Linked DNA regions of Homo sapiens: region 2 is linked to region 1. A link means that fine-mapping ties the variant in region 1 to the expression of a gene that starts in the linked region. Tissue or cell type: whole blood. Region 1 holds a variant in brackets; the other region holds the start of a gene. All regions are shown on one strand. Distances are from middle to middle.

Region 1 (8,179 bases):
AGGCAAAATACTGGCTGGTCTTCCATCTAGGTTACTGCTATTGGGTGTGAAGGATGGGTTTCTGGTAGAGTTCCCCCAGATCCGGAGGAACCCTGCACTCAATGTGCACATGAAACCTCGGCAGGGGTTCTGCCATTGGGCTTCGAGGAGTCTGCCTAAGGCAGGGGCTTCTACAAGCCTTGAGTTCATGTCCACCCTGTGTCTTAAGTGAGACGTGACAGTCATAGCCAGTGCCACAAAACAGCAGTCCAGCATAATGCCAGGATTTCAGCGCACTTGTCAGCTTCCAGGTTTTCCATCCCCTGGCTGTGGCCTGCATTGTGTTATGAGACAGCCAAGAAGAAAAACGATGAGGCTTCTTATGGAGGGTTGCCACAACCCCTCTATGAACAGACTTTTCCACAGGGGGGTGAAGGAGGAATGATCCAGCACCATGTGGACTTACGGAATCCTGGTCAGCCCCGAACCCTGAGATGTGATGCTGGGGAGGGATGGAACAAAGAGTCCCCCATTCCCCGTATAAATTACAAAACTAAAAATGGGGCATGGCCTTATTTACGTGTTCATCTGACAACTGTCTCCCATACCTGGCTTGGGTAAATGGTTTTTCCAGAGAGTGCTTTTTCACTGTTCTTGAGGTTGGCAGGTACTTCAGTACCACCAGTGACCTCCACAGGCCAAAGGAAAGTTTAGGAGATAGTGTCCAGGGCTGATGCAGACGGATTGGTACTTTGAAAACAGAAAGATGAATTAATTGAAACTTACTTTCACAAATTATCGTTAGGAATGCTCACAGCAGCTTAATTTCACAGCCTGAGCTTCCAAATGCTATGTCTGAAGTATTAGAAGTCTTGTAGTAGACACCTCCCTTCAAAAAAAAATTATCCACTGGAATTCATGAAGACCAGTTTATTTTACATGCTTGCTTTCACATTCTTTACTGGGAATTTAAGGCCTTTTTTCAGCCTTAACTTGTATACCAACCTCAAGGATTTTGTTTGATACAGAAAAGGATAGGGCTGGGCCCTTCTGCCAAGGACTGATAACCTGCCTGCCAAAAGGAAGAGGGAATGAAAGCCTTTTGTCCTTCTAGGCCCCTTACAGTACCTCAAAATCTAAAGGCCTTAAAGGGGAAAAAAACCGTATCTGTTCTTTCTCCTTATCTCCTACCCTTCTCTTTAAGCATATTGAAGATGGACTTTTTTCCAAATGTTTATTTGTAGGAAGAGGTGATGAGTGCAGGCCAGCAGCTGAGAACTTACAGCTTTGATGCACCAGGAACTGTATTCAAGCTGAGGGCAAAAGCCTCCTAGGGAGGGAGCCAGGTCCACCAAGGCCAGAGACAGACAGGCGAGACTGTGGAAGGCCAGGGAGATGCTGCCTGGTAAGTGCTCAGCTGGCCTACTGGGCAAGTCCTCTGGGGTTCTAGAGCTGATAGGAAGAAGGAGTCCATTTTGATAGTCCTGCCTGGAGACTTGGACCTAGCTGATACTAAGGTATTTTATAAAGCTACAGTGGATGTTTTTCTTAAGAGAACTGAAAGTTGGAAAAGGCACAAGTATATATAAGAATTTAGTAAAATGATAATGGTGGTCTTTCAAATCAAAGAGTGATCTTTAAATTGTTCTTGGGAACCACAGGGTTCCTGGCCATGTCTGGCGGCTGAGAGGAGGCCAGGATGGGGACTTCAACCCAAGCAGCTGTGGTTTTGCCTTTGATAAGGTTCCTGGTAAAAATCATCTTGAATAAATGTTGCTGAGAAACTGGTAAAGCATTCGGGGGAGAAAGGATTTTGCTCTTTGCTCTGCCATGTTTTTCCGGGCTCTTTCTTCGGGGAGAAAGAGGGCTCTAACCTTTGGTCCTCATTCAGATAGGCTAATTAGGGGTCTCGGGTGTCCCCAAAGGGCAGCAACTTTGACCCCTCCCCTTGTGGGTAAAAGGGCTTTTCACAGTTTCCCAGCAGTTGGTTTTTGGTTTCCACATAAGGCTAAAGGTGTTAAAGTTTGGTCTGCACCTCGTTGGTTTTAATCCAGGGAGGAGCTCCTGGATTTCTTTTTCTCCCCCACAGAGGGAAACCTTTTGTTTGCGGTGGGCCAGAGTTAAAACGGGGCCTTTACCACTCACTCAGAGTGTTTGGTGTGTGTATGTTTGTGTGTGTGTTGGGTGAAGTGGCGACTGGCATCTGGTATGTCATGAATTGAGACCTATAATGATTTGCCAGGGTGTCTTGGCTCTGGCCTGAGTCGGGTATGTGAAAGCCTTTTGGGGCAGGAAGGGGCAAAGTGATACCTGGCCGTCCCACCCTCTGGTCCCAGAAGGAGCTCTCGCTGGAGCCAGGCAGCCTCCAGTCCCCCTCCTTTCAGCCTTGTCATTCTCTGCATCCTGCCCAGGCCACAAAGGAGTTATCTGGGGCTGAACCCCTCTCCTTCCACAGCAGAGGACCAGGGGTCTCCTCCCTCTGACCAGCCTCCAGTCTGGGGAGCTGTGTTTTCCTTTTTCTTAAGCTAACTCCTGATCCCATTGAGGGACATCAAGGGCAGTAGTTTGAAGAAAGCCTCATCCTTGGCCCTGCTTTTCCGGGAAGCCGACCTTCCCTCTACCCTGGTGGTGCCATCATTAGGGCGTGTGGCCGAAGGAGGCAAATTGTTAGGTGCAATCAGGAAGCCGTGTCTGCATCCCATGGCTGAGGGACAGCCAGGATGACACTTAGGCTGTCTCTCACTCCATCCTCTTTGGGGAGTCTGGGATGCTCTCAGAGAGCGGGGTGAAGCCCAGCAGGAGGACATGTCTCTCGTAGGCCTTGGTCTGCTTGAACATGGTGTCAGTCCCATGGAGGTGGTCCAGCACACCCAGCACCCCATAGCACTGGTTGAACCTAGAAGAGAGAGGACGGCACTGCAGTGCCCATGCTGGAGGCTTCCGTGCAGATCCCATTTCATTTGTGCCAGCCTCACACATTTCTCAGCCCTCCTACCCCACACCTGTCACCACCATCCTGACCATCTGCATCAGAATAAGCTGGGGAGTTGCTACCAATGCATCTCCCGGGGGCCACTCCAAACCTGCAATTTGCCGTATCTGGAGTCCTCCTTTGAAAAGCTTGCT[G/A]TGTGATTGATGCCCACAGTCTGAGAATCTCTAGCAGAACTAGGCTTCTTCAGGTATGAGATCACCAGCATCAGAATCCCCTGGAACACTTAACTAAAATGCAGGTTTCCAGGCCCTGCTCCCCCAGATACCTTAGTTCAGCATATTTGGAGTGGAATTCAAGAGCCTATATTTTAAACAAGCATCTCAGGTGATTCTGGTATAGGAGGTTTGTAGACTACACTTGAAAAAGTCTGGGGCTTTCAGAGATACATGACTTCCTTGTGATTGCCTGCAGGAGTTTTATGCATATATGTACTTTTCTAAAGAGAATGTCCAGAGCTTATTCAAAGGGCCCAGAGTCCAAATAAAGGTTTAAAACCCCCAGTTGGAGGAGGACCCAATTTCAGAAGGAAAAGAGTAAGGTCATCCCAGTGTGGTTATTTTCCCAGCCATCAGACCTCTTCCCCAACTAGCACTCACATGTAAACTGAGATACCAGTGCCTGCTATCAGAAGCTTAAGGAGGGAGGGTGATGGTTGTTGCCTAGGGACCCATTGTGGGGAGAAGGTCCTTACTTGAGATGGTGGTAGTCGTGGAATTCAGGCGAAGGCAGGAAGGGAAGGTGGTAGCCACAGTGGGAGATGGTGGTGATGATGAGGGCCAAGGAAAACCACATGGTGATGGAGGACAAGTGGGAGCCCATTACTAATGGGCCCACTATCACCGGTAGCATGTTGGAGACCTGCAAGAGGAGGGATGATTGAAGGCAGGGTCCAGGGAGATGAAGGGACTTAGTTGGGTATACACTTAGTCCCAAGGTGGTACCAGAGGCAAACTTCCTTGACCCAGATCTGGAGAAGGTGAGAGTTTCGGGACTTTGATTTGTTGAAGGCATTCACCTTTGTAACTTGGGACAAATTACGCAGTTTGAGCCTCAACTTTCTTGTTAGCAAAATTAAGATTAAAAAGGTTGTTGGAGGAGCCAGGTGTGGTGATTCATGCCTGTAATCCCAGCAATTTGGGAGACAGAGGTGGGAGGATTGCTTGAGGCCAGGGGTTCCAGCCAGTCTGGGCAAAATAGCAGGATCCCGACTCTACAAAAAAATTTAAAAATTAGCCAGATGTGGCCAGGTGCGATGGCTCACTCCTATAATCCCAACACTTTGGGAGGCCAAGGCGGGTAGATCACGAGGTCAGGAGTTTGAGACCAGCCTGACCAACATGGTGAAAACCTGTCCTACTAAAAATACAAAAATCAGCCAGGCGTGGTGGCACACGCCTGTAATCCCAGCTACTCAGGAGGCTGAGACAGGAGAATGGCTTGAACCCGGGAGGCGGGAGATTGCAGTGAGCCGAGATCATGCCATTGCACTCCAGCCAAGATGACACAGTGAGACTCCAGATTTGGTGGTGCACACGTGTGGTCTCAGCTATTTGGAAGTGCACACGTGTGGTCTCAGCTATTTGGAAGACTGAAGCTAGAGGATCACATGAGCCCAGGGGTTGGAGGCTGCAGTGAGCTATGATCACACCACTGCACTCCAACCTGGGTGACAGAGCAAGACCCTGTCTCAAAAAGAAAAAAAGAAAGTTGTTGGGATGATTAAATGAGACAACTGTGTTAGCACTTAACATAGCCTGGCATATGGAAGGCTGACAATAAATGGTAGCTATTTTTAAATGGGAAGAAAAAGGGCCGGTGTGGTCTAAGTTCTCTGCAGGAGACCTTCAGGAAGGTGGTTGGGGCCATCTGCCCTTTGCTCTGGGGAGCATAGAGCTCTACTCACTGCATGCTCTATAGGGTGGGCATAGAGAGAGATCACGCCAATGGGAGCTGTCCACTCATGGTGTTTCTTGTGGATTTTCTTGTAGAATGTTGGGTGGTGAAGGAGCCTGGGGAAATAGTTAATAGTTAATAACCTGCTGATTCCTCTTTCTCCCTCCCCGACCAGACCATGAGAAACCAAAAATAGGAACTAGGGGTTACATCCATGGAGCAAAGTTAACAACACCAAGACCTGCCTTCAAATTTCAACCCCAGCCCTTATACTGCATAGTTTGGGAGTGGGTTGCTTTGCTTCTCTATGCCAGTTGTATTCGCTGTAAAATGGGATGCTGCCCAGAAAGGACTGAATAAGGAAATGAATGGGAAACTGCCCTGGCTCCCACACAATCAGAGAGGCCTTTTCTCTTTTGGACATTCATTCCTCAGTTGTCCCAAGTTGTCAGTTATGAGACAACTAGTGGTCTCCCTGTTAACTATTTAATGGGACACTTGAGGCCAGGGAGTATTTTACTGGCCTACACTCAATTCAGAAGCCTGTTCCCTTTTATTTTTTTTCTTTGAGACAAGGTCTTGCTCTTTCGCCCAGGCTGGAGTGCAGTGGTGTGATCACAGCTCACTATAGCCTTGACCTCCCGGGCTCATGTGATCCTCCCACCTCAATCTCCCAAGTAGCTGGGACTACAAGTACACACCACCATGCCTGGCTAATTTTTTAAATTTTTTTGTAGAGACGGGGTCTCCTGACATTCCCCAGGCTAGTCTCAAACTCCTGGGCTCAAGTGATCCGCCCACCTCAGCCTCCCAAATTGCCAGGATTACAAGCGTGAGTCACTGCACCTGGCCTCAGTTTCCTTGTTGATCAGTGAGCCCTAGACAGGATGAGGAGCCAGCTGTGCCTCAGGCAGGGCCTGCTCACCGGTGTGAATAGTAGAACAAGACTTCCTCGATCAGCGTGAAGATGGCCAGCTCCAGGAGGAACCAGTGGAAGGTGGGTAGCTCACGGCGGCAGGGGTCTCTCCACCATTTGAGGAAGGGATAGAGGAAGACCACCATGGGGAAAGATATCATGCACTGGTTGAAAAGAACTGTGCGGATAGACTGGCGCAGTTTCACAGGATCCACCTGCCCAAGGGAAGGGAGGAGGGAGATGGATAAGAGTGTGAGAAGTAGGCTCCACCGTGACCTGCTTACAGGAGGCCCTCACTCTGGTTGGATTCTGGGAGAGATGTCGGGGGACAGCCAGTAGCTCCTGACTGCCACCCAGCTCTGGGCCTGGAAACGTTGCAGAATAAGGCCCTGGCTGCTAGGCAGGTGAGTAATACCCCTGTCCTTGGAAACTTCAGCAGCCTTCAGTCTGTGTCGGAACCTGCCTTCTTCCTGGTTCTGCACATTATCACCACTGCCCTCCCCATTTCTCTGGCCAGGCCCCATGTATTTACAGGTAACTTGGGTAGCCTCCATGGTGCTTGGAGAAGGCTGTGACTTTCTGAGTGATACCCCATTTCAGCCATTTAGCCCCTCTTCATCAGAGAACCTTGTTCATGATTGGATGCAGAGATCAAGATCATCTGCCTCCTCAAGTGGTCCAGCCTCCCTGCAGTAGGCCCAGAGCAAAGAAGCAGGTAAGCCAAGGAACTGCTTATCCAGCTTCTTGACCAACTTGCTGGTTTTCACAGTGATGCTGTGAAGATGGGGGCCTGCCCAAGCATTTCCACCAGGGTCCACTGTACAGAGCTGGTCCCAAGTGTCCAAAGTCCATTTGGCCTCAATACTGCAGCCAATATTTCCCCCAGAATCAGCAACCCTTTGACCCTTCCCTTTGTCAGAGCACTGGGGCTCCAGGCAACAGTCCTGTGACCATAGATTACTTCCTGGATCCTGATGAACTTGTTTGGTTAGAAGGGATTTCTCCAAGTTCCCTCTGTGAGCTGGAGGGATTTCTGCCCCAAAGCGCGACAGGTTCAGAATGGTCCCCAGCTTGAGGCCTGCCTCTTCCTCCAGCCTTTCCAGGCACTGCATGCATTAACTGATTTCAGAATTCACTCTTTGTTTACTTCCATCCCATTGCGAGGCCAGGTCTCGCCAGCCTGTTGTGAGAGGACATGTTAGGTGAGGCCATTACACCTTCTGGAAACCTTGACCAAGAGGCGGGGTATCACATCTATCTATTCATTTATTTATTTAACTGATATTTATTGAGTACCCACTATGTAGCACTCAGTGTACTGGGTGTTGAAAATAAAGCATGAGCAAAACAAAGATTCCTGCCCCCATGGAATTTATGTTCCAGTGAGAAAGGTAGACTAGACACAACAAATATAAAAACATATATATCAGGCTGGGCACGGTGGCTCACACCTGTAATCCCAGCACTTTGGGAGGTGGAGGTGGGAGGATCACTTGAGGCCAGGAATTTGAGAGCAGCCTTGGCAACATCACGAAACCCCATCTAATTTTTTTTAAAAAGCTGGATGTGGTGGTGTGCACCTGTAGTCCCAGCTATTCAGAAGCCTGGGGTGGAAGGATCATGTGAGTCCAGGAGTTTAAGGCACACCAGCCTGCGTGAGAGAGTGAGACCCAATCTTGTTAAAAAAAAAAAAAAAAAAAAAAAGGGCCAGTCGCTGTGGCTTACGCCTGTAATCCCAGCACTTTGGGAAGCCAAGGTGGGCAGGTTATGAGGTCAGGAGATTGAGACCATCCTGGCTAACATGGTGAAACCTCGTCTCTACGAAAAATACAAAAACTTAGCTAGGCGTGGTGGCATGCACTTGTAGTCCCAGCTACTCGGGAGGCTGAGGCAGGAGAATCACTTGAATCCGGGAGGCGGAGGTTGTAGTGAGCCACCGAGATCATGCCACTGCACTCTAGCCTCGGTGACAGAGCAAGACTCCATCAAAAAAAAAGGCAGGCCGGTGCTGTGGCTCATGCCTGTAATCCCAGCACTTTGGGAGGCCAAGGCAGGCAGATCACGAGGTCAGGAGTTTGAGACCAGCCTGACCAATACGGTGAAACCCTGTCTCTACTAAAAATACAAAAATTAGCCAGGCATGGTAGTGTGCGCCTGTAATCCCAGCTACTCAGGAGGCTGAGGCAGGAGAATCACTTGAACCCGGGAGGTTGCAGTGAGCCGAGATTGCTCCATTGCACTCCAGCCTGGGTGACAGAGTGAGACTCCGTCTCAAAAAAAAAAAAAAAAAAGCAGTAATATAGACAAGAGAAGATGGTGAATTAGACCAGGGTAATAGTGATGGAAGTGGTGAGAAGTGGTAAGAAGTGACTGGATTCTGAATTTATTTCAGAAATAGA
Region 2 (8,179 bases), 30 kb after region 1:
TTATTTGTCTACAGCCCAACTCTTTCAGATTTTCTTTTTTCTTTCTTTCTTTCTTTTTTTTTTTTTTTTTGAGATGGAGTCTCGCTCATGTTGCGCAGGCTGGAGTGCAATGGCATGACCTTGGCTCACTGCAGCCTCTGCCTCCCGGGTTCAAGCGATTCTCCTGCCTCAGCCTCCTAAGTAGCTGGGATTACAGGCACCCACCCCCACCATGCCTGGCTAATTTTTTTATTTTTAGTAGAGACGGGGTTTCACCATGTTGGCCAGGCTGGTCTTGAACTCCTGACCTCAGGTGATACACCCACCTTGGCCTCCCAAAGTGCTGGAATTACAGGCATGAGCCACTGCGCCTGGCCCAGATTTTCTTTCATATTCTTGTTTCCTGGATATTCTGCATGATTGATGAATGTTCCTTTTTTTTTTGAGACAGAGTCTTGCTCTGTCACCCAGGCTGGAGTGCAGTGGCGCGATCTTGGCTCACTGCAAGCTCCATCTCCCGGGTTCATGCCATTCTCCTGCCTCAGCCTCCCGAGTAGCTGGGACCACAGGTGCCTGCCACCACGCCTGGCTAATTTTTTGTATTTTTAGTAGAGACAGGGTTTCACCATGTTAGCCAGGATGGTCTTGATCTTCTGACCTTGTGATCCGCCCGCCTCGGCCTCCCAATGTGCTGGGATTACAGGCGTGAGCCACCATGCCCGGCCTACTGAATGTTCCTATTTTATAGATATAAATACATCACCTTTATGTGAATGTGTATTGTTTTGTAAACAACTTGTAAAATTGTTGAGACAATTTACTCTTAGAGGGGGGAGAAAAAAGACCTCATGTTCATCTGGTCTACCCCTTCCATTTTATAAGCTAAGGAGGAAGCCCTAGTTAGTAGAAATGACTTGCTCCAAACTCCACATGGTTTCTGGCAAAATCTAGGCTTCTTAACACTTTGCCTAGTGCTGTATGTATTTTGGGAATAGCATAACTTCTATTTCATAAGAAATGACACAGGGAGAGGGCAACTGACCCAAAGATTAGAACTCCCCTTACTTCAGCCTCTGCTCTCAGACTGTATGCTAGGAAAAAGCTGAGCAGTCGACCTCCAGGGCTGAGGAGACTGACCTGTAATGTAATTACACAGTTTAAAGCCTCTGGTGAAGAGGGTTTTGAGGAGCTGCTATGACTCAACATCTGTACTAATCTGAGGCTTATATAGAAGATAGAGTGGCCGATATTCATTTAAGAAGATGAAATGCGGCCAGGAGCGGTGGCTCGCATCTGTAATCCCAGCACTTTGGGAGGCCGAGGTGGGCAGATCACCTGAGGTCAGGAGTTTGAGACCAGCCTGGCCAACATGGCGAAACTCCGTCTCTACTAAAAATATAAAAATTAGCCGGGTGTGGTGGTGCACGCCTGTAATCCCAGCTGCTCTGGAGGCTGAGACAGGAGAATCGCTTGAACCTGGGAGGCGGAGGTTGCAGTGAGCCAAGATCATGCCACTGCACTCCAGCCTGGGCGCCAGAGCAAGAGTCTGTCTCAAAAAAACAAAAAAAAACAAAGATGAAATGCGGCTGGGCACGTTGGCTTATGCCTGTAATCTCATAACTTTGGGAGGCCGAGGTGGGTAGATCACCTGAGGTCAGGAGTTGGAGACCAGCCTGGCCAACATGGTGAAACCCCATCTCTACTAAAAATACGAAAATTAGCTGGGTGTGGTGGCGGGCACCTGTAATCCCAGCTACTTGGGGGGCTGAGGCAGGAGAATCTCTTGAACCCAGGAGGTGGAGGTTGCAGTGAGCTGAAATCGCGCCACTGTACTCCAGCCTGGGTGACAGAACGAGATTCCATCTCAAAAAACAAAAAAAACAAAAACAGAAGATGAAATGCATGAAAGGAAAGGTTAAAAATGATTCCCATGGGCCAGTTTTAGTAATACTCTCTTCACTCCTTTTGCTGCATGGTACTTGCACCCTTTGAGCTTACTGTTCTGCTTGATTGCATGTCCATGAGGCCGAGAATCTGCCTGTCTTGTTTACCACGAGATCCACAGAATCAAGCCCAAGCCTGGCATGTAGAAGATACTCAAGAAAGATTTGCCGAATAAATAAGAGATACACGAATCAAAAGCATTGCTTTTTGCCCTCAAAAAGTGTTCAACATTTGCTATGGAACATTTTAGCACCATTCCCTTGTGCTAATTACTTTCGTAACTAAAGTTAGAAGCTGATGCTCAGTGCATCTGTGTTTTAGCAAATTGAATTGAATCTGTATATCCCACTCAAAGAAATTTAATTGGAATTGCACATGAAACTGAAGCAACCCACAAATCAGCATCTTGTCTTGCTTGCCTTAAGCCCCAGAAGGTCCTGAAAGCCACTGTTCTATTGTTCATCTCCACCTACACACTTTACTGTATGCCCTTTACTCAATAACCTTCGTGGAGTGTTTCCATAGGTACTATCAAGCCACTAACGATTTCACAACTGGAGCCACTGTTGGTAAATCCAAGTATGTTGCATCAAAACAGTTTCAACCTACTTGTCTAGCTCATAGCCCACACATCTATCCAGAGACTTTAAAACTGTTGTATTTTGCCCCATACCTTCCTGGTGATGGCAGAGTAGAGATGAGAAGCAATTAGGCAGCAGTTGCTTCCCAACAGTCTCTTCCAGTTTGTTCTGCCTCTCATTTGAGTTCTGAATTAGGAGTTGCTCCTTTACAAATGGTTTTAAAGTCAAACAATTACTTGTCCATTACAATCACCTGTCAATTGCTAGAAAAATTAGACTACTGAGGAGGTAGATGGTACAAACACAGGCAGAGGATACAGACATTAGTAAGAGACAAGGAGGCGACTGCACTACAGCAATGTCCTAGGACAAATTCTAACCCTGCCATCTAACCCTGTTTAGAGGCAAATCTAACCCTGCCATAAGTAGAGAGGACAGGGTGGTGGCAGAGGTGGGAAGAGTGTTGTTTTGCCCTTACTTTAAGTGAACCTGGACATGTCCTGACCTTTGCAAACACCACCCCTCCCCCGTAGTTCCCACTTACCTCTGCAGTGGGCTGTGTCCAAGCTGCTGAGGTCCTTGCACAGGTCAAATCTAAGTTCTCTTCCCTTTCAGCCCCCGCTTTGGTGGCTGTTGCTGCTGCGGCTCTGCTGCAGGCTAACCTTGTTTTTGCTCGGGTGGGAGGCTGGCCATGGTGATCTCATTACAGAGCTGCGTACTGGCTCGGACCAGGCACGTGATGAAAAAAGTTTGGGTCTGTGTGGGCTGGAAACAAAACACCCTTCTTTCCAGAGGGCATGTCCTTAAAGCGGAAAGGGAATCTAAGCTCAAGCAGGAACTTGAAAAACGTGCATTTGGCCAAACTCTGGGCTTCCCTCCCCCTGCCCCCTTTTTTTCTTTTAAAAAATTTTCTCCATCATCTGCAACTTAAGAAAATGTCGCTGTCCCATAGGAGGAGGCAGATTCAAGAAAAGATGTGGGTGTCAGATAATGGCAGGTAGTACAAGTTGATAAAAAGGTGACAGAGACCAGAGGATCTCATTTTCTTTTTTTTCATTGCTTCTTTTCCTGTGGAGGGCAGGCAAGGGAGGAGAGATGCATCAGCTATTTCTAGTGAGTCTAGATGCAGGAAAGGCATGCCTGTGGAGGGTAAATTTGCACTGTGATTGAAATAGGGGAACTTAGGATACAGGACCCATGACATGAAGTGAGGAGCACTTTGGAAAAAGAGCTGCTTTTAAATTTCTGAAAACTTTTTAAATAAGCAAATGTGCAAATGATATAAAATACAATAGGGTCAAAAGAATGTACAATGAAAAGTCTTTTTTTAATTTCTCCTCAGTCCCCTTTTTTTCCTCCCAAGAGACAACCTCTGTGACCAGATTTTTGTATATCCTTCCAGAGCTTACCTCTGTAAATAGAAACATGTGTAGGCCTTGTGCTTCTCCTTTAGCAACAGCACCATAGTATGTTTGTTGTGCACCTTGCTTTTTCCACTTAACAATCAAACATGGAGATTGGCTAGGCATGGTGGTGCTCACCTGTAGTCCCAACTATTTGGGAGGCTGAGGTTGGAGGATCACTTGAGCCCAGGTATTTGAGACCAGCCTGGGCAGCACAGGAAGACTCCTTTCTAAAATAAACAAAACTCAGAAACTTGGCTGGGCACGGCGGCTCACATGTATAATCTCAGCACTTTGGAAGACCAAGACGGGAGGATCACTTGAGGCCAGGAGTTCAAGACCAGCCTGGGCAATGTAGCAAAACCCCATTTCTACTACATATACAAAAAATTAGTAGAGCTTACTGGCACATGTCTGTTATCCCAGCTACTGGGGAGGCTGAGGTGGGAGGATGGCTTGAGCCCAGGAGTTGGAGGCTGCAGTGAGCTATGATTGTGCCCTGCACTCCAACCTGAGTGACAGAGTGGGACCCTGTCTCTAAAAAACAAAACAAAATAAAAAATGCCGGGTGCAGTGGCTCATGCCTGTAATCTCAGCAATCTTTGGAAGGCTGAGGCAGGAGGATTTCTTTTTTTTATTTTTTGAGATGGAGTCTTGCTCTGTCACCCAGGCTGGAGTGCAATGGCATGATCACAGCTAACTGCAACCTCCGCCTCCTGGGTTCAAGCGATTCTTCTGCCTCAGCCTCCCGAGTAGCTGGGACTACAGGTGTGCGCTGCCAGGCCCGGCTAATTTTTGTATTTTTTTTTTTTAGTAGAGATGAGGTTTCACCATATTGGCCAGGCTGGTCTTAAACTCCTGACCTCATAATCTGCCCACCTCAGCCTCCCAAAGTGCTGGGATTACAGGCATGAGCCACCACCGTGCCTGGCCTGGCAGGAGAATTTCTTAAGCCCAGGAGTTAGAGACCAGCCTGGGCAACATAATGAGGCCCTGTCTCTAAAATAAATAAAACTGTCAACAACAAAACATGGAGACTGCTCCATATAGTACCCTTAAGAGCTGCCATGTTCTGTTTAATGGCTGCCTCCCGTCCCATTGTATAGATGTGTCATACTTTATTTGGCCAATAAAGGACCATGTCTTCCTCATTTTCCTTGCCTAATTCGTTGCACAAAGCAAGGGCTCAGTAAACATTCAATGCTTGCTCACAAATTAATTACATTTTGTACAACTTGTTCATGTTTTTCCTCATCTCTCCTTTCAGAGATACTAATTTTTTTCAATATTCCAGATATTGCAGAATGTCTATATTTTCCAGCTGACCAAGTCTATCTTGTGCACTGAACAAACCTGTGCTACCAGACTTCCAAGACTCACTTTAGTTTGGCTCCTCTCAGATGATATTATTTCCTATTCCCTCCTACTTTCTATTTTTTAATTTTTTTATTTTTATTTTTGAGATGGAGTCTCATTCTGTTGCCCAGGCTAGAGTGTAGTAGCACAATCTCGGCTCACTGCAACCTCCGCCTCCTGGGTTTAAGCGATTCTCCTGCCTCTAAGCGATTCTCCTGCCTCAGCCTCCAGAGTGGCTTGGACTACAACAGGCGCCTGCTACCACGCCTGGCTAATTTTTTTTTTTTTTTTTTTTTTTTGTATTTTTAGAAGACTCAGGGTTTCACCATGTTGGCCAGGCTGGTCTCAAACTCTGACCTCAGGTGAGAGTTCTGAGGTTACAGGCATGAACCACTGCACCTGGCCTATTTTTAAAAATTTCTTGGCCGGGCGCAGTGGCTCACGCCTGTAATCCTAGCACTTTGAGAGGCCGAGGCGGGTGGATCACGAGGTCAGGAGATCGAGACCATCCTGGCTAACACGGTGAAACCCGTCTCTACTAAAAGTACAAAAATTAGCCAGGCGTGGTGGCGGGCGCCTGTAGTCCCAGCTACTCAGGAGGCTGAGGCAGGAGAATCGCTTGAACCCAGGAGGCAGAGGTTGCAGTGAGCCGAGATTGCGCCACTGCACTCCAGCCTGGGCGACCGACAGGGCGAGACTCCACCTCAAAAAAAAAAAAAAAATTTCTTTAGACACAGGGTTTCACTCTGTCACCCAGGCTGGAGTGCAGTGGCTCAACTATGGCTCACTGCAGTCTCAACCTTCTGGCCTCAAGTGATCCTCCCACCTCAGCCTCCCAAGCAGTTGGACTACAGGCACACACCACCATGCCCCACTAATTAAAAAAAAACATTTTTGGAGAGACAGAGTCTGGCTATGTTGCCCAGGCTGGTCTTGAACTCCTGACTCAAGCAATCCTCCTGCCTCAGTCTCCCAAATTGTTGGATTACAGGTATGATTCACTGTGCCTGGCCTCCTTCCTACTTTCTAATGCCAAGCATCACTGTCATGTGCAAACATTTATTGTTCACTTACTATGATGTACAGAAACTTTTTTTCCTATTTCCTATTGTCTCCATGTCCATATCTTTGCTTACGCTAATCCTCTCACCTGGAATTTCCTTCCTGTTCCTGTCAAGTATTGTGCCTCCAGTTCTTTTCTCTCTCTCTCTCTCTCTTTTTTTTTAAGAGATGGGGTGTTGCTATGTTGTCCAACCTTGTCCCAAAATCTTGGCCTCAAGTGATCCTCCTGCCTCAGCCTCCCAAAGTGCTTTAGCCTCCCAAAGTGCTAAGATTACAGGTGTGAGCCATTGTGCCCGGCCTAATTCTTTTCTTCTTGAACTTTTGTAGTTTAAGTGGTCAACACTCCCTGGAGTAGCAGGTACTTTTTTTCCTACAATCATTTCATATAGGGTCTTTATGTATTTCCATGGCAGTAATAACTCTGGCACTAATAACACTGGTCTTCAGTAAATAGTTGATTGCTGAGCAAGCCTTATAGAGAAGAGCATCTGTCTAGTGAGAAGCTCTCCAGCCTTCCTGGGTTTTCTCTCCATCCTATCTTTTTTTCTTTTTTTTTGTTTGAAATGGAGTCTGGCTCTGTTGCCCAGGCTGGAGTGCAATGGCATGATCTTGGTCCATTGCAAACTCCACCTCCCAGGTTCAAGCGACTGTCTTGCCTCAGCCTCCTTAGTAGCTAGGATTACAGGCACCTGCCATCATGCCCGGCTAATTTTTGTATTTTTAGTAAAGACGGGGTTTCACCTTGTTGGCCAGGGTGGTTTTGAACTCCTGACCTCAGGTGATCCACCTTCCTCGGCCTCCCAAAGTGCTGGGATTACAGGCGTGAGCCACCACGCCCAGCCAGCTGTGTGGTTCTTAAGGGGTCCCATTCATTTTATAACGAGTGTTTCTCAATTTTGTTTATTTATTAATTTTTTTGAGATGGAGTCTCTCTCTGTCGCCAGGTTGGAGTGCGGTGGCGTGATCTTGGCTTACTGCAACCTCTACCTCCCGGGTTCAAGCAATTCTCCTGCCTCGGCCTCCCGAGTAGCTGGGATTACAGGCGTGTGCCACCACACCCAGCTAATCCAGGGGTTTCACCATGTTGGCCAGCATGGTCTCGATCTTCTGACCTCGTGATCTGCCCGCCTTGGCCTCCCAAAGTGCTGGGATTACAGGCGTGAGCCACCGCGCCTGGCCTTCTCAATTTTCTTAAACTTATACTCTCCTGCTGGGCGTGGTGGCTCAGGCCTGTAATCCCAGCACTTTGGGAGGCCAAGGCGGGCAGATCACCTGAGGTCAGCAGTTCGAGACCAGCCTGACCAACATGGAGAAACTGTCTCTATTAAAAATACAAAATCAGTCGGGTGTGGTGGTGCATGCCCGTAATCCCAGCTACTCGGAGGCTGAGGCAGGAGAATCGCTTGAACCCAGGAGGCAGAGGTTGCGGTGAGCCGAGATCGCGATATTGCACTCCAGCCTGGGCAACAAGAGCGATACTCCGTCTCAAAAAAAATGAAAAATAACAACAACAACAACAACAAAAAACAAAAACGTATACCCTCCCAAATGAGATTTGTTCGAACCTGACTTTCTATAGTTTGCAGCTCAAAAACAATAGGGGCCAGGAGCAGCGGCATGCACCTGTAATCCCAGGCACTCAGGAGGCTGAGTGAGGAGGATTACTTGAGGCTGGGTGCCCAGGGATTCAAGACCAGCCTGGATAACGTGGCAAGACCCTCATCTCAAAAAGCAATAGAGTTTTCTTCTCAAATATGAAATGATGTAACTGAATATATTCTTTTCCAACTACCCTCTCATTCATTAGGGGCTTCCTTCCGACTGGGAAGCAGTGACTTCTGGAAAATTATTCTA

The links. PIP is the estimated chance that this variant, and not a neighbour inherited with it, causes the effect.
Region 2: it holds the start of FAXDC2, and the variant in region 1 is fine-mapped to the expression of FAXDC2 in whole blood (TOPMed, PIP above 0.99).

What each region holds. Positions count from the first base shown.
Region 1 is chr5:154,817,598-154,825,776 of GRCh38, forward strand. FAXDC2 (fatty acid hydroxylase domain containing 2) reads right to left here. Exons shown (of 9, transcript NM_032385.5): 6 at 5,790-5,995; 7 at 4,875-4,980; 8 at 3,663-3,829; 9 at 895-2,875. The coding sequence ends at 2,719. It overlaps LARP1 (La ribonucleoprotein 1, translational regulator), which reads left to right. Exons shown (of 19, transcript NM_033551.3): 19 at 1-8. Among named protein-coding and RNA genes, the nearest start is that of MIR378H, 7.8 kb to the right of the region's middle. The variant G/A (reference allele first, on the strand shown) is at 3,106.
Region 2 is chr5:154,847,435-154,855,613 of GRCh38, forward strand. FAXDC2 (fatty acid hydroxylase domain containing 2) reads right to left here and starts at 3,169. Exons shown (of 9, transcript NM_032385.5): 1 at 3,049-3,169.